2 separate regions of the Homo sapiens genome follow, and region 2 is linked to region 1. The links come from fine-mapping of genetic effects on gene expression. A gene starts in region 1. The other region holds a variant in brackets. All regions are shown on one strand. Distances are from middle to middle. Region 1 holds the start of ABI3BP (ABI family member 3 binding protein). Region 2 has its middle 48 kb from the start of ABI3BP.

Region 1 (15,938 bases):
TATTCCCGCCTTTTTGGTAGAAATTGATGAGCTAATTCTAAAATTCATGTGGATATACAAAAGTCAGCTAGGTGCAGTGGTTCATGACTATAATCCCGGCACTTTGGGAGGCCAAGGCCGGAGGATCACTTGAGCTCAGGAGTTCTGGTCCAGCTGTGGCAACATAGCGAGACCCGATTGCTACTAAAAAAAAAAAAAAAAAAAAAAAAATAGCTGGGTATGGCTGGCGGTGTGTGCCTATAGTCCCAGCTACTCAGGAGGCTGAGGTGGGAGAATCACTTGAACCTAGGAGGTCAAGGCTGCAGTGAGCCATGATTACACTGCTGCACTCCAGCCTCAGTAACAGAGCTGAGATTGTGTCTAAAAAAAAAAAGAGAGAGAGAGAGAGGGAATAGGTGGGCAAGCATTATCTGCTTTTAAGACTTATTATAAAGCTTCAGTTTTCGAGACAGGAGGTTGTTGGCATTTAGATAGACAAATAGAGAAATGGGACATAATAGAGACTCCAGAAAAAAACCCACATGTATATGCACAATTGATTTTTGATGAGGGTGCAAAATTAATTCAGTGGGGAAAGGATAGTGTTTTCAGGAAATGATATTAGCCCAGTTGGGTGTCTGTATGTAAAAAAAAAAAAAAAAAAAGAAAGAAAAAAGAACTTGGATTCGGATTCATACCATGCACTGTATGCAAAAATCAACTCAGGATGGCTCACAGATTTAAATATAAAACTTAGAATATTTTCATGCCTTTGGATTTGGCAAAGGATTTTTAGCTATGACACCAAAAGTAAAATCTATAACAAAAAAGTAGGACAAATCAGACATTATCTAAATTAAGAACTGTGCACCTCAAAAGAGACTGCTGAAGGAATAAAAAACAAGCCATGATAGGGAGGAAATATTTGCAAAGTATATATCTGATTTAAAAAAAACCTAAGTTCAGAGTATGTAAAGGGCTCACAAAACTCTATTATAAAGAAACAAACAAACTCCTCCCTCAAAAGTGGAAAAAAGACTTTTGAACAGACACCTTACTAAAAAAAAATAAATAAGCGAATGGCAAAAAAGACCTGAAAACATGTTTATCGTCATTTGCCATTAGGAAAATGCAAATTAACCCCAAATCTGGCACTACATACCTGTAAGAATGGCAAAAATTAAAATGTCTGACATGCAAATGTTGAAGACATGGAGGAACTGGAACCTCCATGTACTATAGGTGTGAAGATAGAATTGCACAGCCACTTTGGAAATGGGTTTGGTAGTTTCTTAAAAATTTAAACATACACCCGATTAGGTAGTCCACTCTACTTGGAATATTGGATATTTATCCAAGACAAATAAAATCCATCCATCCATCCAAAGACATATATACAAATGTTCATTGCAGCCTTATTTGTAAGAGCCCAAACTGGCAATAGCCCAAATGTCCATAAGTGAATCTAATTATAACCATGATGAGTGAAAGAAGCTGGTCAGTAATAGAGTACATACTGCATGATTTCATTTATGTAAAATTCTAGAAAATGCAGTGAAGTGCATTGTACTAGAAAGCAGATCAGTGGTTGTGAGGCATCATGTGGTAGGCACCGAGAGGGAAAAGGGTGAGATTGAAAAGGGACACAAGAATTCTCTAGGAAGTGAGGGATATGTTTATTGTCATGATTACGGTGAGGATTTCCCCGGTAAACACATGTGCCAAGACAAGTGTTAAAACTCACCAAATTATGTACAGCAGTTCCTGGAATAAAATTGTTTCATAACTGGTGCCACTATGTAAAGTTTGACGTTCTTTCCATGTCTGCGTGGGTTTTCTCTGGGTCCTCATGTTTCCTCCCACATCTCAAAGATGTGCACATTAGTTGAATTTGCACGGTCCTAGGTATGTTCCCAGGACCACCAGACAACTACTCGTTCAACATGCTGCTGCGTACTTGCATGCCCCAGGCTGTCAGCCTCCCTGATGCAGTACTCTAACTTTCAGGATCCTCCTCTGGCATATCCTCCTGTTCAGAGTTCCTTCTCTAGTTTACTAACTTATGTTTCTCACTCAGCTCTTGACTCCATCAATTCTTACATTATTTGAAGCTTAAGTTAAAAAAAATTCCCTTCACCTGCACAAGTTCAGCTAGGTACTCAGCATCTCCATGAAGAAAGCAGAATGTAGATAAAACAAGGAAAGCAAATTTCACAGCTTAGAGATATACAACTTAGGTCTTAAAGAAGCTTGTTTCTAGATGAATAGATCCTTCACACTGTTTTATAAGTACAAGTTGCTAATTAACTCAAGGTTATGAAGCCAAAAATTTAGAGGTCAAGATGCCTTAGACAAATTGAAGAATAACCTGCAAATATCACTTAGGTGTTTAAGGGGCAGTACATCTCTGTGCTATAAAAAGAATTGTGGAAGAGAACTTCATGCTCTGGCCAAATGTACCTCCACTGGAGCAGGACACTTGTCCAATTGGATCATGGGTCTAATTCAGGAAAGTGATTAAAGAAAAAAGATTTGGGATGAAAACATGGAACACTGGGTTTCCCATTTCAAATAAGTCATATTAAAATTATTTTTATTAGCATCCCTTAGAAAAACCACAGCATAGCTTCAAATATTAATTGCATACATGCAAGCCTTTTAAAAATCTCCTAGCATAATACTTTACAGAGACTAAAAATATGGACAAATAGGTTAAATGACTGCACAAAGTTGACTTCCAAGATTTGAAAGATGTATGAGTTTTAATAGAAGTCTCATTTGAAATAATGAAATTAACGTTGAGCCCTTAAAAAAATCAAGCATGAATTGGCCAGGCGTGGTGGCGGGTGCCTGTAGTCCCAGCTACTCGGGAGGCTGAGGCAGGAGAATGGCGTGAACCTGCGAGGCAAAGCTTGCAGTGAGCCGAGATCACGCCACTGCACTCCAGCCTGGGCGACAGAGCGAGACTCTGTCTCAAAAAAAAAAAAAAAAAAAATCAAACATGACATGACTGAAAACTATGACACTTATTTGAGCAGTGGTCTAGATGTCTTCTAATCTCGTGGATTTCACTGACTTCCCCAAGGAGAAAGTATTCTTAAAAAAATGCCATACAATCATTGTACCAAAATTCTATCAGTCTACGGTTGCATAGAAAAGGAAAAAGAACAGGTTCCCAGATGCCCACTTTATAGCTTGTGACACATGTTTTTTGACACAACTTCTGTGTGTGGGGTTTGTTTGTTTTACCTCACCTTGCTCCAGAAACAAATTAAAACAACTTACAAAATCACATAAATTAAGACTCCAAGTAAAATAAGCAAGAAATAAGGGTGGGGACGAAAAATAAAGCCAAGAATGATGTCAAAGAATGCACATCACAAAGACCTATACACTTAATATGGGTGGGGGATGTATTTGGCTCTAATTTTCTACCAGTCAACACAGAAAGAGAAACCTGGTTACAATGTCAAAAAATAAATACAGTTGCTCTGGAAAAATAGCCACAACTTTTCATATTTGACACAGCAGTCAGACGTTTTCTCCAGGGTTGTTATTTTTTAGGAGGTACTATATGATGTAGTAAGCAATGTCTAGCAACACTCTTACTATGTACAATAGGGGGTTTCATGGCTGATTCTTATAATAGACTTCAGTGTAGGTATTACACAAAATGCACTATACTAAAGCATGATTTAATAAAATATTTTAACGCGGGCCAATACTATTTTCAAGAACTGTGAAAGATCTGAGATTTTTATCCTATCTGCAAGCTAACATGCAGTTCATAGAGGCTGGCAGGAGACACAAAACACCTGGGTCAAAGACAAAGGAAAGGACAGTTTATTACAGCAATAGCAGTAGCCTGAATATCAGCATTTGCACTAGTTCTAGGAGCCCAAATTCTCACAGGACAACACAAAGAGGTACAGGTGATATGTACACATGCCATGGGTTGTTTTACAGAAGAGGAATGACAAGCTTAGAGAACTTAAATATTTTATAATGGGAAGTGATCATGTATTCACATTGCCCCAGAGGGAGATGTTACCTTTATTATATGGAACAGAACACAAATTTCTATCTTCCAAGGATATTTTATGTGCAAATATTCTTTACAAGATATTCTGGAACATAGGGAGTTAGTGCCTCTGCTCATAGGATGTGCGGAAACATTAGTTACCCTTGCAAAATTATCTCCCAACAACTGCACATTCTAGGTCATACTCAAGTGTTCTCTGACATAATCTAGAACTAACCCTTAGGTTATTGGGAGGAATTGATGAATTCTGTTTCATTTGACACTTACTCATCATGTACTTATTGTATTCTTATATTCTAGGCACTAGAGACAGTAGCAAAAGAGGCACAGTTGCTTTCTGTAGTGTTACTCCTCCCTAGTCTGAGGAGAGCCCTAATACTTTCAACATCCTCACTGAATGTTCAAGTGTCCTACTAGCTAAGATAATGCAACCATTTTTTATTTCTGACACAATAATTAGAGATTGTGCTTCATTTAATTAGCCTACAGTCAGTTGCAAAACTGCAAATAATGATTGCTAAGGTGGATTTGACTTTGCCTGCTGGCCATGCAGAGGCCAATTCCTGAATTCCTGCTGGCCAAGCAGAGGTCAATTCCTAACTCTTGCACCAGCCCCTCATAAATGTTTTGAAGAACCAGCCTTCTTTACAATATTTCTGCTGGGTTTGTTCCCCTCAGAAAACCTGTCATTTCCTGCTAACACAGTGGTCTCACTGGCTTAATGTGATGGCAATGACATATAGGAGCAGAACCAGCAGTGCCAGCTGGATAAATGTCCTAACCCCGATTGAGGGAACTGCTTATTCAAGTAAAAAATCAGAGATGAAAAAGACCTGTTAAATAAGCCAGTGCCTCCTGTAGTCACTGCCAGAGCATTCCTATGGTGAGAGCTTAGACCCAGCCAACTCTAAATGACTTTAACAAGGTGCCTTCTCACACTTTATTTGGAAGACGGGGCTGTCTCTTCCATTTTTTCTTCTTTTTTCTTTTTGATAAGTTTTCTAACTAGAATTTCATTTGACCAGTGTTATTTAATTTTTCTCTTACTGTTTTTGGTTCAGCTACAGCACCCCAATGAGGTAAGCGATTTTCAAAGAGTCAGTATAAATATACCAACAAGGTTTAAAGTGCTTTATTAACCCAGCCATTCCACCCATGCGTCTATATATTTTGACCAAAGTGATGTAGGGGGAAAGGATACACATGTGGACTTCAGAGGTAAATATGCCCAGGTTAGAATTATAGTTCTACTTAACTGGGGGCTTATCATTTTCATTATTATTGTTTCCAGTGACTGCCATTTAGTAAATGTTTCCTGTGTGTCAGGCTCTATGGCAACTACTTTCGAAAAACTGCTAGCAAATGTAAGAAATTGATACTGTCATCTTTATTTTAGAATCTAAAATGTAGTAATTAAGACTGGAAGCACTATAGTTAAATGGGCTGCTTAAAATGCCAACACTGTGACCTTGGACTTTCACTTGACCTCTCTGTGCCCAGTTTATCTATCTGTAAAATGGGGATGATGACAATGCCTGCCTCATAGACCGTTTTGAGGAATAAATGTCTTAACATGTGTAAACTGATTCGATCAGTGCCTAACACGGAGCAAGCATTTAAATGTCATCAATATTGATAATATAGAGATGAAGTTTGCTCAAGGACAATTCATTAGTAAGTGGCATCCGTTATTAAGCAGTAGAATATACTAGCATTGTCAGGACACTTAACCTTTTTTCCTCAGCTTTTCTTAATGGCAAAATGGGGATAATGCCATATCTCCTGCAGAGGCACTGGGAAGATTAAAATACAGTAAAGTAGGTAAAGACTCGATTACAGAACTCAGTCCACAGTTGAGGCTCACATAGTAATAGTGCTCTCTCTACGTCTCTACATCTACATCTGTTGAATATATGTGTATACACATATATATTATAACGTAATGTATAGCTTTGTAGCCAAAGACTTACTCTTAAATGTTTCTCATAATACAGGAACTACAGAATGGCTCAAAATATATCTTTATGAGTTTACTCCCATTTAAAAGAATTGGGTTGGTTTACTGGATAATTAAAAAGTTTCCTTCTTAATAAGGTTTTATTTTATATTTTTAACATTTTGATAGCTTTTAGTACATTGTTTCTGGATTCTTTAAAATAGTTTATCAAATGTTTCAAAACTGCCTAAATACTTCTTCTTTCACAAATACAGATCTGCCATAATTTGAATTTTTATATCACAGAAGGAAGAGACACAGTTACAACTTAGCAGAAAGAAAGAAATGTGATGATATGTTTTTGCTGTTGTGCTTTTTTTTTTTTTTTTTTGGTGTGTGTGGGAAAGGGTGTGATGTCATCTTGTCTCCACCCCCTGTGAGTAAGCCCACGGCACAGCTAAGTGCAGCCGCCCGCCTCTGTCACTGGGAGACAGTCCACTTAAATGCAGCTCCAGGGTTGCGAGGCACCCACCAGCATCATTCCCCATGCGAGGTGGCAAATGCAACATGCTCTCCAGTTTGGGGTGTCTACTTCTCTGTGGAAGTATTACACTAGCCCTGGGAAATGCACAGAAATTGCCAAAAGGCAAGTAGCCTGATGTTTTATGTTTTAAAAATAATATTAAGATATAGATGTTTTTAAATGTTGATTTTAAATATGATCTGCTTTACCATACGGGGGGAATAGAGTTATTCTGCAGAGATTCAAAGTTCAAATGTGTGAAGGGGTCTCTTAAACTTTTACTTTCCCCTCCTGTTATTTACTTTTCAATTACAGCTCTTTATTGCAAAAATGAAAACAAACTTATTACATTGAGCAGCTGTTCATCAGAGCTTGAACTGTATACTTTCTAACTATAGTGCTTGTGTATTGAATCATATTGTGTAAATGGATATTATAGTCTGTTAGAAAGAGTTGTTTGGTGTTTTTATCCTCCTCCCCAGAGACTGAATCAGTACTAGCTTAAGATTCAAAAGAAGCTGGTTCTGAAACCTTGAATCTTTGGTGTGAACCTCAAACATACCTGTTGACCAGGAAGCTGAGGGAGTCTAGGCAGGTCAGACCAAAGTACGGTCATGTGCTGATTTGCAGACACGTCCCTCCAGTGGAGTTTGGAAGAGGGCTTGAGCTGTTGGACAGGACACTCCCCCCTTTCTTGGCTAAATTGCTCTCATTTTAGTGTTGGTATTTTGTTTACAAATGTTATCAGAAGAAAATTAAAATTTCTAAATTTTGACCCTAAAAACAACCCTTTGAGCCCATCAGAAACCAAAACAAGAGGCTGTTGCCTCTCTCCTGTCTCTGAACATAAATGTTGCATGTACTTTTGTTTCTCTGCAGAGGCACTTCTCTAAGCCAACTCTAGGTCTGTGAAGGCTTTTTATGGTTGCAGACTGCTGTAGTCAGCAGGATTGTGAAAAACAGGCTGGAATTTACCATACAGTCATGATGGAAAACATCAGAAGTAATGCAGAGCTGCAGGCTTGTCAAGAACCTGGTGTGCCTAAAGTCAGAAAGAAAGGTTGCTAGTGTCAGAATATCCAAAAGATCATCCCTAGGTCCTCTCTCTGGGTAGTCTGCCCCAGGATCATCTTGTCCCAAGTGAAAACTGTTCTTTCCTCGGTGGGTAAAGTGAAACTTGAATCCAGCATGTGAAGGCTGAAGCGGTTGGCTAGTTGATATTTCACACGATAATGTGAACAGCAATAAAAAAGACTAAGTAAACTTTCTCAACTCTGATCAAATAATTAAAGAAAAATAAAAAACAAGCACTCTTAGATCTTTTTCTACCAAGAGTTTTGCTCCTTGATCACAATAAAACTGTGATTTAAATAAATCAATTATGAGCCACAAGCATTCAGAGTTAATTGTACCTACTAATGGAATATTTAACAGTAACATATCATTTGAGAAGAGTCTGGGGGTTTTCTCAGTCTTAATACCTACAGAAGACTTTTATTTTACTTTTTATTCATTGCATAGGGATGATATAGGTGCAACTTTGTTACTGCAAACTTCTGGACAATCCCAGTGCTTTAATTATCGTGTTGCAATCACTAGACACAAATCTCTTGACACAATTTTTCTTTATTTATAATGGGAAAGAAAAAAAAACATAGTTGTCGAAAATGGCCACAAAACTTTTGTTGTTTATTTAAAAAATATTTGTAGTTTTGGTAATTTGGAAAAAAACATCAAATTATAATAATGATAAAAGAAATGGCAAGTCTTGTTTTTAATATTATGTTTTTTCTTTATTGGAAAGCTATTGAGGACCTTTTAGCTGAAGTCATCTTTTTCAAACTGTGCTCCAGGCATAGGTGCACTGTTTGTCCTACAATGGGTAGAGTTTGGGGTGAGGGTGGAAGGGCAGCTGATTCCTGTCAATAACTTGTGGAGTCTTTAAGGGGGGAATCACAATAAGTGTTAGCAGTTTGCACATTCTCAATAAAGAAACCTGTACAACTTTTTGTTTCTCACACTCATTTGACTAAGAATCCTCTTTTCCATAGAAGATCTATAATATCTTAACAGGGGTTTGTCTGTCACAGGACACATTTGGGGAAATGTTGAGTTAAAAAAGAAGAAAAAAGAGTAAAAGTTTTTACTTTTGTTCTTCCTTCTACTTTAGAGTTGGTTAAATACTATTTGTGACTTAAGAAGTGGTTAGAATTCTGGAGCTAGAAAAGATATTCATGATCACTTAGTCTAGTGATTCCCAGACCTTTGGATTTATGGACCAACAAAAATACACAAATATTTTAACATCAGGGTCCTGTTATAGAGAGCATACTTGAATTTTGCTATGTGAGGATGCTCAAAGGGAACAGGGGAGAATGTCTAGTGTTCATAAAAGTAAACAATTTTAACAGATTTATACAATAAATAAATTTAATTTCATAAATAAGTCCATTGTTATTTTTCTCATTTTCCCACAGACTAATGAAAAATTGATCACAGGCCAATATTTGGAAACCACTGACCTAACATAACCATTTATTTTACAAATGAAGATACCCCAAAGCAGGGCAGATTCAGTAACTTTCCCATGTTAATGGTGGAGCCAGGACTTGATACCTAGCTTCTCATTCAAAATCCATGTTCTAACCTGCCTCCTGCCAGATAGGCAGGTTCCTCTGACCCCAGCCTTAGGAATGACATTCTGTAGTGTACATGTGAATGCTACCTATTCCTTGAATAAAAGAGTTTCTTGTAAATTTCTTTAACAGTATTTTAATTTTAACTTTTCTTCCTAAGAACATATCTACATTTTTATGTACATATTTTATATATATATTATATATACAAAATTATATATATATAACCATATATAGTTATTTATAAGAAGTCAGTTGTTATATGTGGTGTGCCTATTTGCATACCTAGTCACATACTTTGTTATAAAAAGTAAGTTATTAGAAGATTTTTGCTTAGTTTTTAAAAGCTTGGAGACTATTAATGGAGCTTTTCTCCTCCCCACCACTAAATGACTATAGTTTTGTCAAATTATTTATTTTTGTTAGCCTCAGTTTTCTCATTGGTAAAATGGGACTAATGATAACTATCTCATAGTATTTTAGGATTAAATGAGATAAGAGACACAAGTCTGGCACATAACAGATTTTCAATAAATCCTTATTGGGTCATAGAAAAGGGGATCAATGTTGAAAAACATGCACACCGAATAACACATGATCTTGTATTCAAAATGTAAGACAAATCTCTTGTAAGGTAGGAGATGAGGTGGTGTGAACTTGGCAGAAAGATGGGGTAAAGGACTGCAGTGTTGTTCTACGTGGCAACAAGGGAGGCTTCTACCGCATTCTAGCCTGACCATTGTCTGCCCATATGGCCAACATTACCCTGTGGAAAGCTGCACCTTTGCTCTAAGATCAGCTTTTCCACAGGGATTTGTAAGATGTCATAGACTCTTCAGGTGAGCTCCTGTTAAGCTTGTTTCTCAGGAGGTGAATTAGACCATACTAGAGAAGAATTTTCACATTGTTTTATACCTTTGGAAGCCCCTGTGCTCCAGCTACCTCTCAGAATCTTTATTCTTGGCACCATTGGCCTTTTTTCTTTTCCTGGCAAACAGGCTAAAATAAAAACCAGTGAGAACAATATGTAATGAAAGGAGCCAACAAAATCTTATAGTGGGAGAGCAGGCCCTTGACACACCTCTGCATGGAAACTCCAGTATACAGAAGATTGTAATTAGCCCAAAGGCAATGGCTATTATTTTTAAGCAAGTGTGAGAAAAACCACAGAGGAACCTCCAAGATACAAGTGTAATCTGATGGCCAGAGGGCATGAGGATCTTGGGTGTGACTCTTGGGATATGGCAGAGGGAAGAGGCAGCTGGCTCTTTGCTTTGGGTTCTTACCTAACAGAGTAGAAATCTCTGACTTTAGGAACAAAACACAGAGCAGATGATAATCATAACAGTAACTGCCATAGCTATTAATAACTATTACCATTATTATTATCACAGGTAACATTCTTTGAGTATATCCTGCATGTGGTAATTTAGTGCTTCATATTTTAATGTGGAAAACCTAATTAAATTATTGAAGCTCCTCCATTGTCTTTGTCTGTTTCGTGCTTCTGTGACAAAATACCTGAGACTAGGTAATTTGCAAAGAACAGAAGTTTATTTTTCACGGTTCTGGAAGCTGGGAAGTCCATGATCAAAGTGCTGGCATCTGGTGAGGGCCTTCTTGCTGCATCCTCACATGGTGGAAGGCAGAAAGGCAAGAAAAGGATAAATTTCCTCCATAAGACTTTTTATAAGGGCACCCAATCCCATTCACAGGGAAGGAGTCCTCATGGCCTAATCACCTCTTAAAGGTCTCAGCTCCTAATACTATCGCACTGGCAACACCTGAATTTTGGAGGGAACACATTCAGACTATAGTACCTATGAAGCAGGTAAACCTATTATTCCCATTTTACAGAGCATAAAATTGTGCCTCAGAGTGTTTAAGTAATTTACTCCAAGTAATATAGCTAGAAAGTGGCAAATGACTATACCTTTAATTTTGATGCAATATTAGTTCCCTGCTCTATGTAAAGATACATTAATTCATTCAAGTAACAAATTATATTGGATGTATACACAGAGCACTGAGGCTGGGGAGACAAAGCTTGGCACTTGTCTTCAGGGAGCTGACCAGCTTGTGGAGAAGATAAGGGACTGGTGTGGAAAGGGATAATTACAATAGAGAGGGGTCATCCTTCAGTGTGGGTGAAGCACAAAGCATTTTGAGAAAAAAAGGATCCAATCTGGATGGGAGGTATGAAGAATTATGAGAGAATAAGAAACCCAAATAGAGGTCTTGAGTACAAACACAAGTTGAGACAAGGAGAAGGATTGCTGAGAGGTGAGGGGCTTTCTCAACAAAGGTAGCTGCTGGCCCAGAGCCCAGGCAACCCCAGGGGCCAAAGCTCAGTGAGTGTTAAAGTACTGAGAGGGAAGCCTAGACTGAAAAAAACCATACAAGATGTAACTGTGCTCTCCTTGTCTCTATCTGGCCTGACTCCTCATGATTGATTACAAAGAGGAAATAAAATGTTGTCTTTGGAGAGGAAGGCTCTTACACCTTGCTCTGTCAACTTTCCAGCTGCTCACCTGGCAGCTGGCTCTCCATGGAGCCCTTCCAACCTCACTTTGACAAAACAAGAATGTGTCACTCCAACAGCTCAGTCCACTTCTCCAAGAGGTGGTTGATGCTTATGGGAGGCTGCAGAGGATCTCGTCCATCTTAAGTTATGGAACACAGGATACTGGTGAGGAGTGCAAAGCCTACTTGGTGTGGTTCTGCTTTTATTTGAGTAACATATATTTATGTATTGCTGGGACTGTATTAAACAGTACGTTAGAAAAAAATGGTTCTGCTGCTAAAAAGAAGCTTAAAAACCACCAAGCAAGAAATTATTTTAGCATCTTTTACAGTTCTAAATTTTCTTGACAGTTTTATTGATGTGTTTGTCTATCAATTATTAAAGATTATCAGTAGTCCTTAATAATTCTTAAAAGTATACTAATAATCATCATGTTACATATCAATGGTGTTTAATGCTGTGTTTATGTAAATTATCTCATTTTATCCTCACACCTGTGAAATATTATTATCTCCATTTCACAGATGAAGAACTAAGCTTAAAGAGTATGTTAGCTATCTATTGCTGCATAAAAATTTTCCACAATAATCTTTAATTGACTGTTAATAATCCTTAATAATCAATAGTCAACACATCAAGCCCAGATTATTAAGCATCTACTAGGTAAACTGAATGAGATACAGCCCCTGCTATAAAAGAACCTTATATTACAAAGGTAAAAACTGACCAAATATAATTTGTCCTGATGCTAAATTTAGAACCTGAGGTTTAAAAAAATAAAGTTTTCTTGTGTTAATTATACATTCACTAGTTTAGTTTTATAGACTGCTATATTGGGCTATAAGATACTGTTAAGAATTTTTACTATCTTCCCCTGTCTCCCTTCAAGAAAGAGAGGGGACACAGGGGAACACCTGAAAATAGAAGAATTCATCAATATAATATTATAGCAAAGACAGTTAAAATGTTATAGGCTAATGTGAGTTTACAGAAGGCTTTTTAAAGACATAAGTGAGGTGTTTAATGAAGGGAATGCCATTCAGGAGATGGGACCAATCACTCTATCTGGATCACCACCCTCAGAAAAAATTTGCCTTTTGCTGTTCCCTGATTGCAATTTATAACAGTAGGTATAAACAAGACAATATTGAAAGTAAATAGGTGAATTTAATAAAATTGATCTCAGAATAAACATAAAATTAAGAAATAGGATACTCTAATGTGATTATCTAGATTATCTAGTTATCTAGAGAGATTACTAGTCAAATAAGAATACATTTGTTAAAATGACCACCAAAAAGTAAAAATAAATAGTATCAGCTAAAGAAGGAACATGCTAAACATAATATAGAAAAACAATAATTGATATACATATATTCAATTAAAATAACATTTTAAAAGATGATAACCATATTACTGTGTATCAGGCATGATATTTAATGCTAAGTGTTTATAAACATGTGAAATATATATTATTATTAGCTCCATTTCACAGATAAGAAATTAAGTTTAAAGAGTATATTAGTGTAATCCCAGCACTTTGGAAGGCCGAGGTGAGCAGATTACTTGAGGTCAAGAGTTCAAGACCAGCCTAGTCAACACGGTGAAACCCCATCTCCACTAAAAATACAAAAATTAGCCAGGTGTAATGACAGGTACCTGTAATCCCAGCTACTCAGAAGGTTAAGGCATGAGAATTACTTGAGCCCAGGAGGCGGAGGTTGCAGTGAGCTGAGATTGTGCCACTGCACTCCAACATGTGCAACAGAGCAAGACTCCATTTCAAAAAAAAAAGAGTATGTTAGTTATCTTTTTCTTATAACAAATGTCCACAAAATTATCAACACACATTTATTATTTCACAGTTGCTGTGAGTTAGGAGTCTGAGCCTGGTTTAGCTGGGCAGACTCTCCTCTCCTTCAAGATGTCTCACAAGGCAACAGTGAAGGTACTGGCCAGAGGTGAGGTCTGATCTGAAGGTTTGCATGAAGAAGGATTTACTTCCAAGCTCACATGGTTGTTAGCAGAATTCAATTCCTTGAGGATCATTGGTCAAAGGGCCTCATTTTCTCACTGGCTATTGGCCTGAGGTTGCTGCAGGTCTCTGCCTCATAGGCCTTTCTATTATGGCCACTTGCTTCATCAAAATGTACAAGCCCAGGAGAGTCTGCTGGTAAGATGGAGGTCACAACCTTATGTAGCTGAATCACAGAAGTGACAACCCATCACTTCTGCCATATTCTACTGGTTAGAAGCAACTCACAGGTTTACCATACAAGTTGATTGTATACCTCAGATTATGTAAGAGTCTATCCACCACAAAGAGCTCAATGGCTGGTAGCAAGTGATATAGTGAAACTATGAATATGGGAAATCTAACTCCAGATAATATACTGGTTTAAGCATTAAAACTCCGTCAACTTCCTAAAGAATTAAGCATTTTGTGGCAGATGCCAACATTGGCAAACTGCTAATTTGTCTCCCTCAGTGCTTGAGGTTAATTATAAGAAATCTCTGAGAATTGAGATAAATATCTTAAGAGTACCAAGTAAATATTCAGCACCCAATATGGACCTTGTTTTCTGTATACAGGATCCCAGTCAATGCCTAGATTCCTTTGCTGGTTTCCTCTGTGGTCCATCAAATGTGGTTGATACCATGTACAGAGGCACACAAAATTCCTCCAAAATAGAAAAAACGCTTTTATCCCTGACACCATCTCTTAAAGGAAACGACAAAAACATAAGAAAAAAATTAACATAGTAGGTAATGAACACCTATGAACCTGATGATACAGTCCTGATAAAAATGTGCTTTTCTGGCCAGGCATGGTGGCTCATGCCTGTAATCCCAGCACTTTGGGAGGCCAAGGCGGGCGGATCACGAGGTCAGGGGATCGAGACCATCCTGGCTAACATGGTGAAACCCTGTCTCTACTAAAAATACAAAAAATTAGCCGGGCATGGTGGCACGTGCCCATAGTCACAGCTACTCGGGAGGCTGAGGCAGGAGAATCGCTTGAACCCGGGAGGCAGAGGTGACAGTGAGCTGAGATCGCAGCACTGCACTCCAGCCTGGGCGACAGAGCAAGACTCTGTCTCCAAAAAAAAAAAAAAAAAAAAAAAAAGTGCTTTTCTGAAACTTCAGTGGAGTTGCTTTTAGAGTAAATGGAAGTTACTGTAGGTCTAATTAAACTTGTGTGTAGAGAAAGAAAATATACTTTTATCAGTGGATGTGATGGAAGCAACTAGAAAAACCAGAGGAGTTTCTCTCAGATCCTATTTAGTGTTAATAAAACAATTTTTCCATATGCTCTCAGGAAAGAAAATTTAGGTTGTACACAGAAAATATTCTAACCATGACACTCAGACTCTCATAGACTGTTTAATACTAGATACCCTGTGGGTCTCTTCTCTAGTGTACAGTCTTCTCTTGTGTTGGGAAGGCCCCGAAAGTGCAGGAGGCACATGGTAGGAAAGGCTGGCTTCAAGGTTCTCAGACTACTTTGGCAAAGTTCTGTGGACAGCAAGACTAAATCAGTACTTATTCTACTCCGTATAATATTAGCTTGGGTTTCCCACCAAGAGCCTTCCACAGCAAGATTGTTATAGTGTGTTGTAGGTTTCCCTCACCTACTAAAGCCTTGACATATATTTACAGTGATTTTGATGAACATTTAAGGCCTGTCAGTACACATGCTATGAAATCAGCTAATGTTCCTTTCTGTGGAATTCTAAAGAAGGAGCTAGAAGATGTGGCATTTTCATAGAAGATTTGTCATCATTCTCCAGTCAAGGATCATACTTTGAAAGCCCAACCATTAGAAAACCAGGGCAAATTCACCCACTTCAAGCATCTTCTGGTCACACTAGAAATTAATTTTAGAGAAAATTGAGGCCTAAGTCACATCTCACCTATGACATAGCAATTCAATATTTTCTTCATTTAATAAGTTTACCTATGACTATAAATACTATAATGTATATCCCAATACAGGCTATAGCCCAATATATTTAATCCTGGATGCACATGAGAATAGTAAAGTTTTCAAAAATATCAGTAATGCTCTGCCTCCCCAACAAATTTATTTTAAATTGGTCTAGGGTGGGATTTTTTTTTTTTTAACTCCTCAGGTGATTCTAATATGGCCAGGGTTAAGAACTACTGATTTGGAGCTTTTTGACAATTTGTATGTATAAGTGCTTGATAAATAAATCTTTCTTGATGAGTACAGAGTAAAATTTAAAGGTTGCAAGTACGTTTTTCTACTATTTAAGTTTTGATTTCTGTAAATTTAA
Region 2 (15,938 bases), 49 kb before region 1:
AAAGTGAAGTAATTGGTAAAGGTGAAGGAAACAACTCAACTCATACAGGGTTTTTTTTTAATTGTTGTAAAATATACATAATATAAAATTACTATCTTAATGATTTTTAAATGTACAATTCAGTAGTTTAAGTATATTCACATTCTTGTGCAACCAATCTCCAGAAGTCTTTTCATCTTGTAAAACTGAAACTCTATATTCTTTTTTTTTTTTTTTTTTTCTTGAGACAGAGTCTCGCTGTGTCGCCCAGGCTGGAGTGCAATGGTGCAATCTTGGCTCACTGCAACCTCCACCTCCTGGGTCCTAGCACTTCTCTTGCCTCACCCTCCTGAGTAGCTGGGGTTACAGGTGCCCACACCACGCCCGGCTAATTTTTGCATATTTAGTAGAGATGGAGTTTCGCCATGTTGCCCAGGCTGCTCTTCTTGAACTCCTGATCTCGGCGATCCACCTGCCTCAGCTTCCCGAAGTGCCGGGATTATAGGCGTGAGCCACCACCATGCCAGACCCTGAAACTTTATATTCATTAAACAGCTCCCCATTTACCCCTCCCCCTAGCCCCTGGTAAGGACCATTTTACTTCCTTTTTATGATTTTGGCTACTCTAGGTATCTCATAAGTGGACTCATACAGTATTTGTGTTTTTGTGACTGACTTATTTCACCTTGCAAAATGTCCTCAAGCTTCATTCATATTGTAGCAAGTGTCAGGATTTTCTCCCTTTTAAAGGCTAAATAATATTCCACTGTATGTATATACCCCATTTTGTTATCCGTTCATCCATCAATGGATTCTTGAGTTGCTTCCTTCTTTTCGCTCTTGTGAATATGCTGCTATGAACATGGGTATGCAACAGTCAGGTGTCCAACAGTCAGGTGGTCGCCTTGCCCCCTTGCTCCCAGAACAGGAGAATAAGTTGGGCTCTGAACCAGGTAGACCTGGATTACAGCCCTGGTTTCACCTCTTACAGGTTATGCAATCTTGGGCAAGTTACTTCTCTGAGCTAGTTTCATTGTGTAATAGTGATATTTAAATAGAGTTGTTTTAGGAGTTAAAAGAGACTTCATGTGAAGCCATTGAACCATGTTTGATACACAGTAAAAATTCAGTAAATTTATGTCTCTTTTATTCTCAAATGTGCCATCTCTTCTTCTCTGATCAGTTATGCATAGCTCCTTCCTTTATTTTCACTTTATTACAAGGAGAGCCACAAACATATACATGAGGTCTGAAGTTGGCTTGCACTGTCAACACTAAAAAAATAAATTTCCTCCCAATAGAGGATACCAGTAGAGTTGGTCCAACCTTGCTTAACTCAACAAATTTTACTTAGAATTTTAGGGCTCTTTTGAAAGAGCACTGACATATTCAAGAAGTCTCATGTCCTATCTTAAAGGTGTCTTTCTTGAAAGACAACAATTGTGTTTTTTTTTCAAAAGCAGTTTCAGGTATCTGAATTCAATTAAGCACAAACTTTGAGGGAGTTCAAATTTGACCCACATATACTCTTTAATGCCTAACTCAATTGGGCCCACTTGTTTGACCTTTATCATAGTAAAGGAAACCTGACCTTTACATGTTCATATTGGCAGCAAGCATTTTATTTCATTTCCCTTGTGGGGATGGTGTCATTGAGATAAATGCCTTTTTGTGGTACATCCTAAGGAATATATAGTATAGCGGCTATACCCAGTAATGATCTGCTTACTTAAACTCAATTTAGTTGTTTAAATATTTAAAAATCAACAAAAATATTTTTAAAATATTGGAAAGACTACCGAAAGAATTTTTAATTTTAGATCTTGCCAAAACACTATAAAGAAAAAAGGGGCTAGATTTGCTCAGCTCAAAAAATTGTTTAATAATTATTTTGTCGTGAGATAAAAAATTAAGAGAATAGCTTGAACTTTGATTAAGAAAAATAATGCACAATCAAAAAATTTTGGTAAAGATGACATAAATATTGAATGGATGAGTACAAATGATTCTTGTTCTTAAAAATCTCCCTTTGGCTTGGGGAAAGGCCCATCCAGCTTGCTACGACCACCTCCAACACCCATACGTGCCACACAGGGGCCTGAGGGCTGGCATGCCATGGCTACAGCCAACACTGACATTATGCATGCCACTCAGAAACCTGGAGACCTGCCCACCTGCCTAGCCAATTATTGCCACTGCTGGTACCTGAGCAAACCACTTGGAGGCCAAAGATTGGCTTTCATTATCACCAGTGCCCATGTATGCCACCCGGGGGCCCAAGGACTGGCATGCCTGGCCCAGCACTATTACCGCTGGTATCCAAGGACTGGCCCACTTGGTGTCCTTTTCCCAGCAAAGCCTCGCCACAGCCTTCACTAACAACCTAAGCCAATGAGGAACTCATATACACCACTGTGCTGATTACAAAGAAATTATATGGAGACTACACTACTACACTCACCCAGAATCAAAGCCAAAGCACCTCACTCAACCAACACTATAGATACATCTATAGGAAAAAGTGTTTTCTTATAAAGTCAATCCATAAAATTAGAAAAAGCAACTGTTACACCAGATGCACAGATAGCAACAGAAGTACAAAAGAGAATCATGAAAAGGCAAGAAAACATGACATCTCCAAAGGAATACAATAATTCCCTAGCAACAGATTCCACCAGAAAGAAAATATATGAAACAACTGAAAAAATCAAAATAATAATATTAAAGAAACTCAGTGAGATACAAGAGAACACAGATGAACAATGCGAATAAATCAAGAAATCAATTCACAATCTGAGAGAGACAGATACCATAAAAAACAAACAGAAATCCTAGAAATGAAAATTAAATGAACAAAATAAAAATATATCTGGGGAGATAACATGATCACTTCTGAGCTCTGGGAGTGCCCTGTTTCTCACTTAATGTGACCTACTCCTCATTCAGCTGAACAAATTGGAGCCTAAGAAGATAAATTGACTTACTTTAGTTAAAGGAAACAACCATTTTGTGTGTGTGGTGGTGGTACAAATACTCTATAAATATCCATATCTTGTTGAATTGGAGATAGTTCATACGCTGGTGACTTCAGAAGTACTTGCCCTTTCCAAGATCACCAGTGATCACATTGTGTCTAAGTCCAACGAATGCTTTTGGGTGATATTTTGTTAGTGATCTCTGGACCGTTTGTCACTGGAGAGTCTTTTTCATTTAAAACTTCTGGATCCTTGGGTAGCACCACATCCTCCTGGACTTTTTCCATATTTTTCCAGCCCGTCTCTCTGTCTCTTTTTAAGGCTCTATCACCTTATTTATTTTCTGTTTTGGTGCTTCCTAAGGTTCTGCCCATACTTTCTGATCTTACAATCCTCCACACACTCTTTCTAAACACTCCAATCCATTGCCATGACTTTACTTTCTATCTGTAAGTTGATAATTCTTAAATGTGTATTCAAGCCCAGATCTCTCACCTGAATTCCAAGCCCTCATTCTCTGCTTGGCTGTTCCATGTGAGCCTTAAACTCAGTAAACAAAAAACTGAAATTGTCATCTTTTCTCCCCATCCTCAAATTACACTCCCCAAATCTCTTCCTCCTTAATTCCTTATTTGCTTGGCACCACGAGGTTCACCTTTGATTTATCCCTCATTCTGTTGAACATTTTTTTAACGTCCTTCATTTCCCCCTCACTATCCCCACTATTAGGATAAAGGGCCATTCTTTCCAGCCTAGATCATCAACCTGCAAAAATCTAATTGACAGTCTTGCTTTTGTTCTTGCCTACTCCTAATCACTATCCATGTAAGACCCAGGGGGAATCTTACTGAGGGAAAAATCCTAATACTACCACTTTCCTGCAAAATAAATATTCTTTGAGCACTTCCCATCACCTGAAGGATCAAGTCCAAACTCCTGCACATGGCACAAGGCCTTTTTTTTTATTTTTTATTTTATTTTTGAGATGGAGATTCACTCCTGTTGCCCAGGCTGGAGTGCAATGGTACAATCTCAGCTCACTGCAACCTCTGCCTCCTGGGTTCAAGTGATTCTCCTGCCTCAGCCTCCCAAGTAGCTGGGATTACAGGCACGTGACATCACACCCGGCTATTTTTTTTATTTTTAGTAGAGGCAGGGTTTCACCATGTTGGCCAGGCTAGTCTTGAACTCCTGACTTCAGGTGATCCATCCGCCTTGGCCTCCCAAAGTGCTGAGATTACAGGCATGAGCCACCGCGCCCAGCCAAGGCCTTTTATAATCTACAGCTAGTCTTTCCATTTCTTTGAGTATTGTAGAATTTTTTCCCGCTCTCCCCTTACATCTGTTTCTTAGCATTTCAAAATACCCTCCATTCTTTGAACTTGCCATGTTCTCTTTTGCCTTTGTTTAAAACCGTGGATGCTTTTCTCTCTGGTGTGTTCCCACTCATTTTTCAAATCCTGGCTCAGATGTATTCTCCTTCTATGGTCCTTCTCCCTCCTCAGTCTGATTGATATCCTCTGTGGTGCCCTTGGCATCCTGTGCTCATCTCATCCCAGTACATCTATTCTGTGGGAATTCAAACATTGCTGGTGACTCTTTGGAGGGTAGCTTGATAATAACTAGTAAAGTCAAATATGTGTATACTCTTTGGCCAGTAAATTGACAATTCTGGTTCATACTTCAAAGAAACCATAGCAAATGTACATAGAAGAAATGTATAAAAATAATTATAGCTGTGTGTAATAGCAAAAAGAATGAAACAACCTGAATGTTCAACAAGAAAAGAGAAGAAATGGTGGCAAAGTCATCCCCTGGAATACTATACAGCAGTTAAAATGAATCAACTAGAGTTGCCACTATCAACATGGGTATACATAAAACACATAGTGTTCAGCAAGAAAAACAAGTTGCAGAATAATACAATTTGATGCCATTTATAAAATTAAAATCATGCAAAACTTTATAGGTTTGAAAATACTTGGCAAATGTATTAAGAAATGCAGGGGTATAAGCACTAAATTCAGAATAAGAGTTCCTTCTAGGAAAGGAAGAAGAAAGAATAATGTTTTATATAAAATAAACTGGAATCTTCCCTCCATATCTGTGGGTTCTGCATCTATGGATTCAACTAACTATGGATTGAAATACTGGGGAAAGAAAGTTCACAAAGTTCCAAAAAGCAAAGCTTGAACTTCCCACACACTGAATACTATGTCAAATCCACACAAATGAAGTGATGTGTAAGCACTGTGTTTGGTATTATAAGTAATCTAGAGATTACTTAAAGTATCGGGGGAATGTGTGTAGTTTATACGCAAATATTAAACCATTTTATATAAAGGACTTGTGCATTTGCAGATCTTGGTATCTGTGTGGGGTCCTGGAACTAATCCCCCTTGGATAACAACAGATGACTGTACAATAGAGACTTAATTACTTTGCCAAACAAATGATACCAATTAACCACACTTCTAGTAGAACAGAAGTAGCACAGAAAAAGAATAGGAATAAATTCTCAAAATTGGAATGGAAATAGTAAAAAGTAAAAATGTGTTTTTGGAAGGGATAAGGATCAGGGCAAACTCAATGCCTTAAGTAATTATGGCTGGGTACATAAACAATTTGTGGTTTGGCTGATTCACAAAGACCTGTCTTGGCTCTCTCTGCTATTAGAAAAAGTGTTGAAAACACTGTTTATTCTGATTTCCTGGGTATGCCTTACTTTAATGGGTTCAGGTAAACAAGTTCACTGGCATTTTCAAGGGGAGCTATAATACCAAGGCAGCATGTGATGAAATTCCACCATGTCTCTTTGTTAATTCATTCCTTTTCTACCTGACCTTTAAGTATTTTAGTTTGTCATAACTCCAACCTCTTAATACTTTATGTTCCTTTCCCAAGTGATTGCATCTATTTCCACATTTAAGTCCCAAGTCCAGATGATAGCTCCTC[T/G]GAGTGATCTTAAATACCCAACTGCTCACTCAACATCCCACTGGATGTATCATGGGCAACTCAGAGTCAAAGTATAATATGAATTCATGCTTTCCATGCCCCATCATCAAGTGTACTCCTGCTGTGTTTTCCTCCCCAGGGTACAGTGTGACTATCCAGCCAACCTGCTGGAAATCTAGGAGTCATTTTTGACACCCCCTCTCCCTTATCTTTTATATCCAATGTATCACTAGGTTCTGTTGATTCTATCCTGTAGACATATCCCAAATGCATTGACTTTTATACAAATTCATTGCTACTCTTATTTTTTTCTGGCCTTTGCATTCTCGCTGTCTTCTCTGTATTTATCAGCTCCACCTCCTCCATCTATGTTTAATTAGCTTCCATTGCATGAAGCCACTGTCCATACTACGTCTAGGGTGAACCCTTCAAAATGCAAATCTGAATGAGGTACCCTTGCCTAAAATATTTCCTTACTTCTTATAGCTCTTGGAGCCCATCGCAGAATCCCTCTCAAGCTCTTTCCATCTGGGAAGCTTCATCTCATTGCAGTCTTCTCCTCTTCTCACTCTTCTCAAATTCAGCTTCCCGCCACATGGCCTCCCTTTAGCTCTTCAAATGTATCTGTCTCCTTCCCACTTCAGGGCTTTACTACAAGCTGCTCTCTCTGCCTGAAAAAACTGACTCTCAGCCACCACTTCCCAATCCCTCCACCTAAGACATGTTTCTTCATGCATTAGCTCTCAGCTCAAACATTACTTTCTCAAGAAAGGCTATCATGACCACTTTGGCAGGGATTATAGGTTCTGTAATAGCACAACTCTGCACTTGTTGATAGCATTTAACAAAAAAGTAATTAAAGATTCACCTAATTGTCTGCTTGCTACATCAGACCATGAGTATGAAAGGAGTAGCACAGTGCTTGCTGTTCCCTGCTGTGTCCCCAGCACCTGCCCAGTGCACCTCAAGTAGCACCTGAATAAAAGGCTGGGCTTCTGAAATGGCTACAGAGAAGGAGGAAGGTTCAGTTTTTACTCCCAGAAGCTACCAGGTACTACTTAATATTTGGAAACCAGTTCTTATTAGCATTTCAGAAAATGAGTCTGGGATAATTGTTTTCAATGGTTTTTAAACTTATGTGGACATTAATATGTAGATACATCTTCATTCTGTGCTTGAGTTTTCCTAAGCTAGAAGTAATTTCCCATGAAAAGCGATCAAATCCCTGTGCATGCTAGATAAGTTCAGTTTCAGAGGCTGTGGATTTCATGCTTGAGAATACCTCTTTAGAACTCTTCTGACCCCTCAAGAAAATCCTTAGCCAAATATTAGTCATGGGCTTGTGCATGAGAAGGAAAAAGGACTGATTTTTCCCTTGAATGGTGTGAATGTTATGTCTTTGGTATAGAAGGAGAATGAATTTTGGATTCAGATAGGTGTCAGATTCTCAATTCTATAATTTTGGCTAAGTTTTTAAAGCCACCCCAAGCATCATTTTCTTCATTTATATGATTGAAATCGTGCGATGATTTACAGAGATACCATAGATTTGCCGAGATAGCATTTAACAAGCTTTGAGCACAATGCTTGTTGCTGATGGAGGCTTAATGAATTCTAGTTCTTTTCACTTTTCTATCAGTAAATGTAAACTAGTCAGTTGTTTTGAATTGGAGCTCAGGGCCCCAGACAATTGAAATTAGAGTTTTGACACTCTAAAACCTCCTCTTCTTACAGTGTTTTCTTAGAAATTATTTTGATAGATTTAGATTGAATGTAAGATTGTATGACCATGGTACATGTCAATTAAGTATACCTTGATGCATCTAGACAAAACCAATAGTAGAGCAAGAAAAAAAGAGGAAATATCATATGTAGGTAATTGGTAGCAATATACTACCTCATTGTAAGGAGGGATTGAAGCAAAGCCTGTCCTACCAGGGCTGGATGCCATTTGCTTATGACCTTTCTAGAATATGTCAGTAGATGTGTTCTAAGGAGAAGCTGGAAGAAGGACCAACGTGTATTTCCTTGGATTAGAGAATGGTTCATCCATCCCTCAGTCTATTCATTGTCATAAGTATCTGAGTGTTTAGGGCATATCAGGCACTGTCCCAGCAGCAAAAGTCCAACAACAAACAAGAGGCAGCTCTGCTCTGATGGAGGGAAGGAGGACAGAATAAGAGATGTAGGTTGATTATCGCTTATCTCAAATGCATGGGACCAGAAGTGTTTCAGGTTTCAGATTTTTGTGATTTGGGGACATTTGCATCATACTTACTGATTCAGCATCCTTAATCTGAAAATCCAAAACCTGAAATGCTCCAATGAGTATTTTATTTGAGCATCATACTGGTACTTGAAAAGTTTTATATTTTGCAGCATTTTGGATTTTCAGATAAGGGACATTCAACCTTTAATAAGCAAATATATATGACATCAGGTGTGAAAAGTGAAACAACAAAAAACAATAAGGGGATAGAGAACGTGTGTTTGTGTGCAAGTGTGTGTGTGTGTGTGTGTGTGGTGCACTCTTATATAATGTGGTTTGCAAAAGTCTCTGGAAGAGATAGTGGACTGAATGTCGCAAGGAAGCAAGCCTTGCAGGTCCCCGAGGGCTGAGTTTCCAAGCAGACAAGGCAGCAAGGACAGCAAGCATGAAGGTCCTAAGCTGCATGCCTGGTGTATCTGAGGAATGAGGAGGGAGCTGGTGCAGGGGAGCAGGGGGAGTAAGGTGAGTGGAGGAGGTGAGGTCAGAGATGTCAGGGGGGCCAGTACACAGGGATAAGTATACAATGGATGAGATTTTGGCTTTGAATCCAAGAGAGATGGGAAGCTATGGGGGAGTTTCAACCATAATCTTATTTGCCTGTTAACTGGCTTACTCTGGCAGCCATTGCAGAACAGCCTGCTGGGACGAAAATAGATTTCCCAGGGGTATGGGCAGAAACAGAAAGACTGATTAGGAGGCTGTTGCCAAAGCTAGATGAGAAGCATGATCCCCTCAGTACTGGCTGCTAAGTTGTTAAAAAAAAATTATATATATATATATATATATATATATATATATATATATATATATATATATATATATATGGTATTCTTTCTCAGAAAATGAATTCTTTCTAATGTCTACTGACTTCTGCATTAAACCAAGTCTGCTTCTCTTTGCTTATCCTTTATTTCTGTATATACTACCCCTCAAATGCAAAGGCTTTGATTAGAATAATAATAATGGGTATGATGAAGAATAGTTGGATTTTGGATCTACTTCAATAATGGAGCTGAGCGGATTTATTGGTGGACTACAAGAAGGGTATGATAGAAAGAGGAACCCAGGATAGCACTTAAGAATTGGGCCTCAGCAACTGGAAGGGTGGAAGGGAAGACTAAAAGAGAGGCACATGCTGGGAACACTGTGGGGTCTTTTTCAGTCTCTAAGAATCTTCTGTTCCAACATAGTTTTAAGAAGAAATCCTACCTTAGGCTTATCGGCCACCTACATCCTATGGTTTAGTTGACTGCTAAAGGCTGGTTCTGTAGGATATAAGAAAATTGCCTAGCATGAAGGGTACTCTGATATAGAAATTGGGAGGAGTGTAAAACACAAATTCCACCTATCTGACTGCTTAGCCAAGCGCTAGCCCTAGTTATTAAGGAACTTTTCTGACTGACTGTCTCCCTAGAGGCTCAAGGCTAGAGTAACAGCTGTAGGTGATTCCCAACTTGGCAAAGGTTGCAATCACCTTTAAGCCTCCAAAGTTGAATCTGGCACTTTTCCAAGATTTGGTTAGTGAAAGCATAGAGCTGCTAGAGGGAAGGACTCAAAGAAGGTCACAGCTAGGAGAGACCTTCGCTAGAGTATAAATTAAAATTTAGAAAGAGACAAGGTCTGGAGAGATTACATGACTTCTGCAAGAGGCATGAGGAGTAGCAGAGACAGGGTTAGAACCTGGGTCTCTAACTCCCAAGCCAGTGCTGTTTTTGCTGTGCAATGCTAAAGGGAATATGAAAGTCACAAGTAGTCACTGACTTGGAACAAATCATCTTTTACTCTCAGGAGACTAGAGATTGTTGTAGTCTTCACCACACACTACTTTTAATTCATATTCATGAATCCCATAAGATTTACCCTTAGGCAAAAACTGGAGTTTGGCTGCGTTTCTTGGTCTAAACAAACCAAGAATGGCAATAATAATCCTTGGTTTCCTCTGGGGAGAGATTATTACTTTCACATTCAGGAAGTGATGAATTGCAACTATAATGGTTGGAAAAGGACAGTGGTGTAATGAGCAGATGTTACTACCATGAATGTGGGGATAATTACAATTCTTCTATGGATAACTACCATAAAAATAAGTTTGCAATATGTCCGTTTTCTTGCCTTATCAAACTGGCAGTTGAAGGCAAAATGGCTTGATTTGAATTTCATCCATGTTTTTCACAATGCCGGAGGAGCTGCTAAGGGGTAGTGAAAGATCCAGAGTAGACTGCTGGAGAAAGAAAGGTGATGCAAGCAGTCAGCTGCTGAAAGACTGACACTTGGTTGTTTCCATTGAAATGTTTTAAAAATCCAGGTGGAAGCTTGTGAACAAGATTTTCTCTGATTACTACAGCATCATCACACCACATGTCAAAAATAGTTATTGCTCACACAAACTGTAGTCATGCTTTTAGTTTCACTCTCTCTCTCTCTTTGCAAGTTCATTGAACTTAGACCTTACTAAGATTTAGGGATCCATTCAATTCTGTACCAGCTGTTTAGTAGCTGATGCTTTTTTTTTTAATAGGGAAAAATTTCTCACATCTCTGTAGATTTCTTACCCTGGGATATTAGTCAGGGTTCCTCAGAGAAATAAAACCAATAGGATAGACAGATGATAGATAGATAGACAGATAGATAGATAGACAGATAGATATATGGAAGACGAAATTTATTATAGGAATTGCCTTATGTGATTATGGGGGCCAAGAATCCCCACAATAATATAGATATATATGGGGAAATTTATTATAGGAATTGGCCTATGTGATTATAGAGGTTGAGAAGACCCACAGTCTGTCATATGCAAGGCGCAGAACCAGGAAAGCTGGTAGTATAATTCCTTCCAAGTCGAAAGGCCTGAGAAAAAAGGGAGCTGGTGGTGTAAGTCCCAGTCTGAGTCTGAAGGCCTGAGAACCAGGATTATATATGTCCAAAGGCAGAGGAACTTGGATGTCTCAGTTCCAACAAAGAAAAAAAGCAAATTCACCCTTCTTCCATATTTACGTTCCATTTACATATTGGATTACCTCCACCCACCTTAGTGAGTGCAATCTTCTTTACTCAGTTTGCCTATTCAAATGCTAATCTCTTCCAGAAACACCCTCACAGACACACCGGGAAATAATGTTTTGCCAGCAATCTGGGTATTCCTTAGCTCAGTCAAGTTGACACATAAAATCAACCATCACAATTAACTCCTTGTAAGCTTGGCACCCATATGAATCTCCTTAAACCATTCCTAACCTTCAAATAAAGACAAAAACCAGGCCGTAATGCCACCTACCAGGATACGAGGATCCTGCGTACACAAGGAATACTAATCCTTTCCTCAGAAGAGAAGGTAAAGTCTTTCAGTGACATTTTCTCTTCTGATATCCTACAGGTTACACTTGAATACTATGTACAAGTTACATACACACACACACACACACACACACACACACACACATATATCCTACAAGTTATGCTTGAATACTATGATGTAAAATTACATATGTATATGTATGTATATATAAAATTACATATATATACACATATATCCTACAAGTTACACTTTAATACTATGATGTAAAAATAACAATAGTTAAATACTGATATAAAGTTAATACATATCATGTTATGTGATAAGGAAATAAGATTAGAAATAAAGGAAATATGTTTGCTTAATATATATCTATGTACACCCAAATATATTCATAACAAGATGAGGAGGAAACACTCATGAAATTACAATTCTCATTTCTGTAACTGGTCATGTAGTTGTAACTGGTATTTATAACTACCTTCTGCTACTACCCATTCTGCATTTTCTTTGCCTTCAGCAAGGACCTCAGCTCATTGTGGCTCTTTACCTGTGGGGTGACCGAAAACTTAATTCCTGACCAGTCTGGGTCATTTGTAATCCTGCCTGGATTGGGTAGTTGTAGTTTCTCCTTGACGTTAATCACAGGGCATGGTAATACTAAAAGATGCCCTAAGGGATCTTCTGTATTTCAGACTTCTCTTCCTTCTATTGCGGAGTAGTAGTCCTATTTACCCTTGGTAGTCAGGATCAATCACCCCAGCCAACATCATAACTCCCTTCTTGGCTGTTGACTCAGAGGCATGAGGAGCCCAAAGTGGCAGTCTTAACTTCTAGTTTAATGGAAGTATTGTTGTATCTCCTGGTGGAAGTATTCTTACCTCTGGGACTAAGACGTCTAAGCCAACAGAGCATAAAGTCTAATGAACAGGAAGCATACATTTTGTTTGTGAGTTACTATGTGTAAATAGGAAATGGTGCCTCTCCCATCTCCACCCCTTGCTACCTGGACCTGTGACTTCTGGCTCTGAGAGAAAGAGCACCATATATTGGATGCTGATTCAGAGCATATACAGAGGGCCTTGTACAAGCCTTGCAAGGTATTGCCATCTAACTGGTATTATAACTGAGTGTTCAAAAGGCCATTCCACCATCCTATCAAGCCAGCAGCTTCGGGATGGTGTGGAATGTGGCAAGACCAGTGAATTCCATGAGCATGAGATCACTGCTGCACTTTTTGTGTGTTCTAGAATAAAATATTTTAAAAATTTCTTCCTGGCTCATTGCTATGAGTTCTTCTGTCTGTGGTTACTAAGACTAATCCCCAAGGAATCAGGAAGAGTCAATCCTTCCTTAGAAGCTGAATGCTGAATCTCTGATTATTCAAGACATTGGACTATTTTTTTAGGAAGTGATGTGACTCTGTTATTTTTCTCCTTGATCTGACAGTATCTGTGGGAAGAGCACAATGAGTTGCATAAAATAACTGACATTAAATTTCAGTGATTTTCTTCTGTGTTATATCTAGCTATACTTTATTCTTTCTCTTCTTCACATTTGTCTGTTGTGCTAATTGACTTAGCTCCTACTTTCTGCTCTGAAATTCACAAAACTACAGTTAAGTATGACACATTTTCTCAATGCTTCTATTTTATCCTAAAATATTGGTGGGGGGGAGACATTGGATTTTTACATTCCTAAAAGATTTTGTTACACACATGTAGAGGGAAAAATCAGTGTAATTCTGTTTTCTGATGGACGTGTTATAGGCCAAATAGAAAAAAAATCACTTAGATTTTTAACTTTTATTTTATGTTCAGGGGTACATGTGCAGGTTTGTTATATAGGTAAATTGCATGTCACAGGGGTTTGGTGGACAGATTATTTTGCCACCCAGGTAATAAGCATAGTACCTGATAGGTAGATTTTTGATCCTCACCCTCCTTTCTCTCTCCACTATCAAGTAGGTCCCAGTGTCTGTTGTTCCTTTTTTTGTGTCTATGTGTACTCAGTGTTCAGCTCCTACTTATAAGTGAGGGCTCTGTTCCTGCGTTAATTCGCTTAGGATACTGGCCTCCAGCTTCATCCATGTTGCTTCAAAGGACTTGATATCTTTTCTTTTTTTTTTTGAGATGGAGTTTCGCTCTTGTTGCCTAGGCTGGAGTGCAATGGCATGATCTCAGCTCACTGCAACCTCCACCTCCCAGGTTCAAGAGATTCTCCTGTCTAAGCCTCCTGAGTAGCTGGGATTACAGGCATGTGCCACCACACCCGGCTAATTTTGTATTTTTAGTAGAGACGGGGTTTCTCCATGTTGGTCAGGCTGGTCTCGGACTCCCGACCTCAGGTGATCCACCTGCCTCAGCCTCCCAAAGTTCTGGGATTACAGGCATGAGCCACCACGCCTGGCCGATATCATTATTTTTTATGGCTGTGTAGTATTCCATGGTGCATATGCAACACATTTTTTTTCCAGTCCACCATTGATGAGCATTTAGATTGATTCCGTGTCTTTGCTATTGTTAATAGTGTTGTGATGCACATACATGTACATGTGTCCTTTTGGTAGAATGATTTTTATTTCTTTGGGCATATACTCAATAATGAGATTGCTGGGTTGAATGTTAATTTTGCTTTGAGTTTTTTGAGAAATCACCAAACTGCTTTTCACAATGGCCAAACTAATTTGCATTCCCACCAGCAGTGTATAAACATTCCCTTTTCTCTGCAACCTCGCCAGCATCTGTTATTTTTTGACTTTTTAACATAGCCATGCTGACTGGTGTGAGATGGTGTCTCACTGTGGTTTCGGTGTACAGTTCTCTAATGATTAGTGATGCTGAGCATTTTTTCTTTGCTTGTTGGTCCCTTGTATGTCTTCTTTTGAAAACTATCTGTTCATGTCCCTTTCCCACTTTTTAATGGGGTTGTTTTTTGTTTGTTGATTTAATTCTTTATAGATGATAGATATTGGACCTTTGTCAGATGCAAAAAAAAAAAAAAAAAAAAAGACTAGAAAATTCTGAGTATGTAGCAGGTGCTACCAGCTAAGGCCAGGCTCCCAGCTCATCATACTAGGCCTTTGGGAACCTTCAGTGGAAAAGGAGAGCTTTACCATATTCTCTCAGTAGCAACAAAACCTGCCACCTAGATGAGGGATACTATAATCCCAAATTTTGGCGGAAGTACATATTTTCTTTGACGTCTGTTTGCCCATTTGATCTTGCTTTTGTTCTCACTTTCTCTCCTCCCTTTACAAATAGTTACATACATTTAATTGGGGGGTGAAACAAAACATGGATATCAATCTTTAGGGCATTATGAAAGTTATCTCCTCAATTATCCAAGTTAAGTGAGCGGCACTTCTGTTGCATTATAAAATAGCTTCCTCTGGTGTACTTTTAAAACTCTCTGTGTTCTAGGGTCAACTATTAGTGACCACAATGTTCAATAATTACTCAGATTTGGTGATTCTGTCCTAAGGTGAAATTGATCCTGTGCAAGCAGAATGATTGTTGTGAGAAAGGCAGCAATGGCAAGGTGTAGAACTTGATGAGATTTAGAGAGAAGCTAACAGCTGAAGCCACTCCCTCTCCCCCAAAGAGGGAGTGGCTCTGTTTTCACGGGAAGTATCTATTTCCATGGGAAAGCAGAGAGGAGAGATTCCCTAGACTACATATTAATTCTAAAGCATCCTCAATATCAATGAGAGAGAGATGCATGTGCAGATGGCAGTTGCTTGGGATCTTTTCCTTTTGATCAAATACATATATTTATGTCCAGATTTACTTCTTTATGTGTACTCAGTTGCAGGGAAGTTTTGAAAGGCATTGCCAGGGATTGTCTACAGATCGTTTTGTCATTACGTAGAATGCGTTTCAGCAATGGTCTTTGTATAGTGTGCTGGGCTGGAAGCATTGGTGTCTAGAGACAGCTGCCTCATGCTGCCAGACTCACACAGAATTGACTTTTGCTACTGTGTGTATGATTTAAACACACACACACACACGCACACACACACACACACACAGATACACATTTATAAATGAAAAGATCAAACGTCTCAGAGTTCTGTTACTCACTTGAGGAAACAGGGTAGGAAAAATGACTTGGAAAAGGAAAATCAAATTACAATCAGAATAATTATTGATGAACAGGGAATCTGAGTGAAGAAGAGATTTAAGATACTCGTGCTGAGGTGACTTGGTGACACACCTTTCCCCAACCTGGAGACCCTCCTTACAAGGAATTGAATCTGCATTTCTGTCAGGGCAGGCATATTGGCTCAAGGTAGCACTCTAAATTCACATTAACTCCTATTTTGACTGTGAGAGATTTTTTAAAACGTTAGCTCTTCATAGCTTATCTTTTTCTCATTTTCATTCAGTTTTATAACAAGGTCTCAATTTATTTCTGTCACATTAGTGATTTTTATAAATGTCCAAGGAAGCAATCTAACCTCATC

The links.
Region 2: its variant is fine-mapped to the expression of ABI3BP in fibroblasts (GTEx, PIP above 0.99).

What each region holds. Positions count from the first base shown.
Region 1 is chr3:100,983,971-100,999,908 of GRCh38, reverse strand. It overlaps ABI3BP (ABI family member 3 binding protein), which reads left to right and starts at 6,488. Exons shown (of 68, transcript NM_001375547.2): 1 at 6,488-6,603. The coding sequence starts at 6,525.
Region 2 is chr3:101,033,199-101,049,136 of GRCh38, reverse strand. No RefSeq gene overlaps it. Among named protein-coding and RNA genes, the nearest start is that of ABI3BP, 48 kb to the right of the region's middle. The variant T/G (reference allele first, on the strand shown) is at 5,910.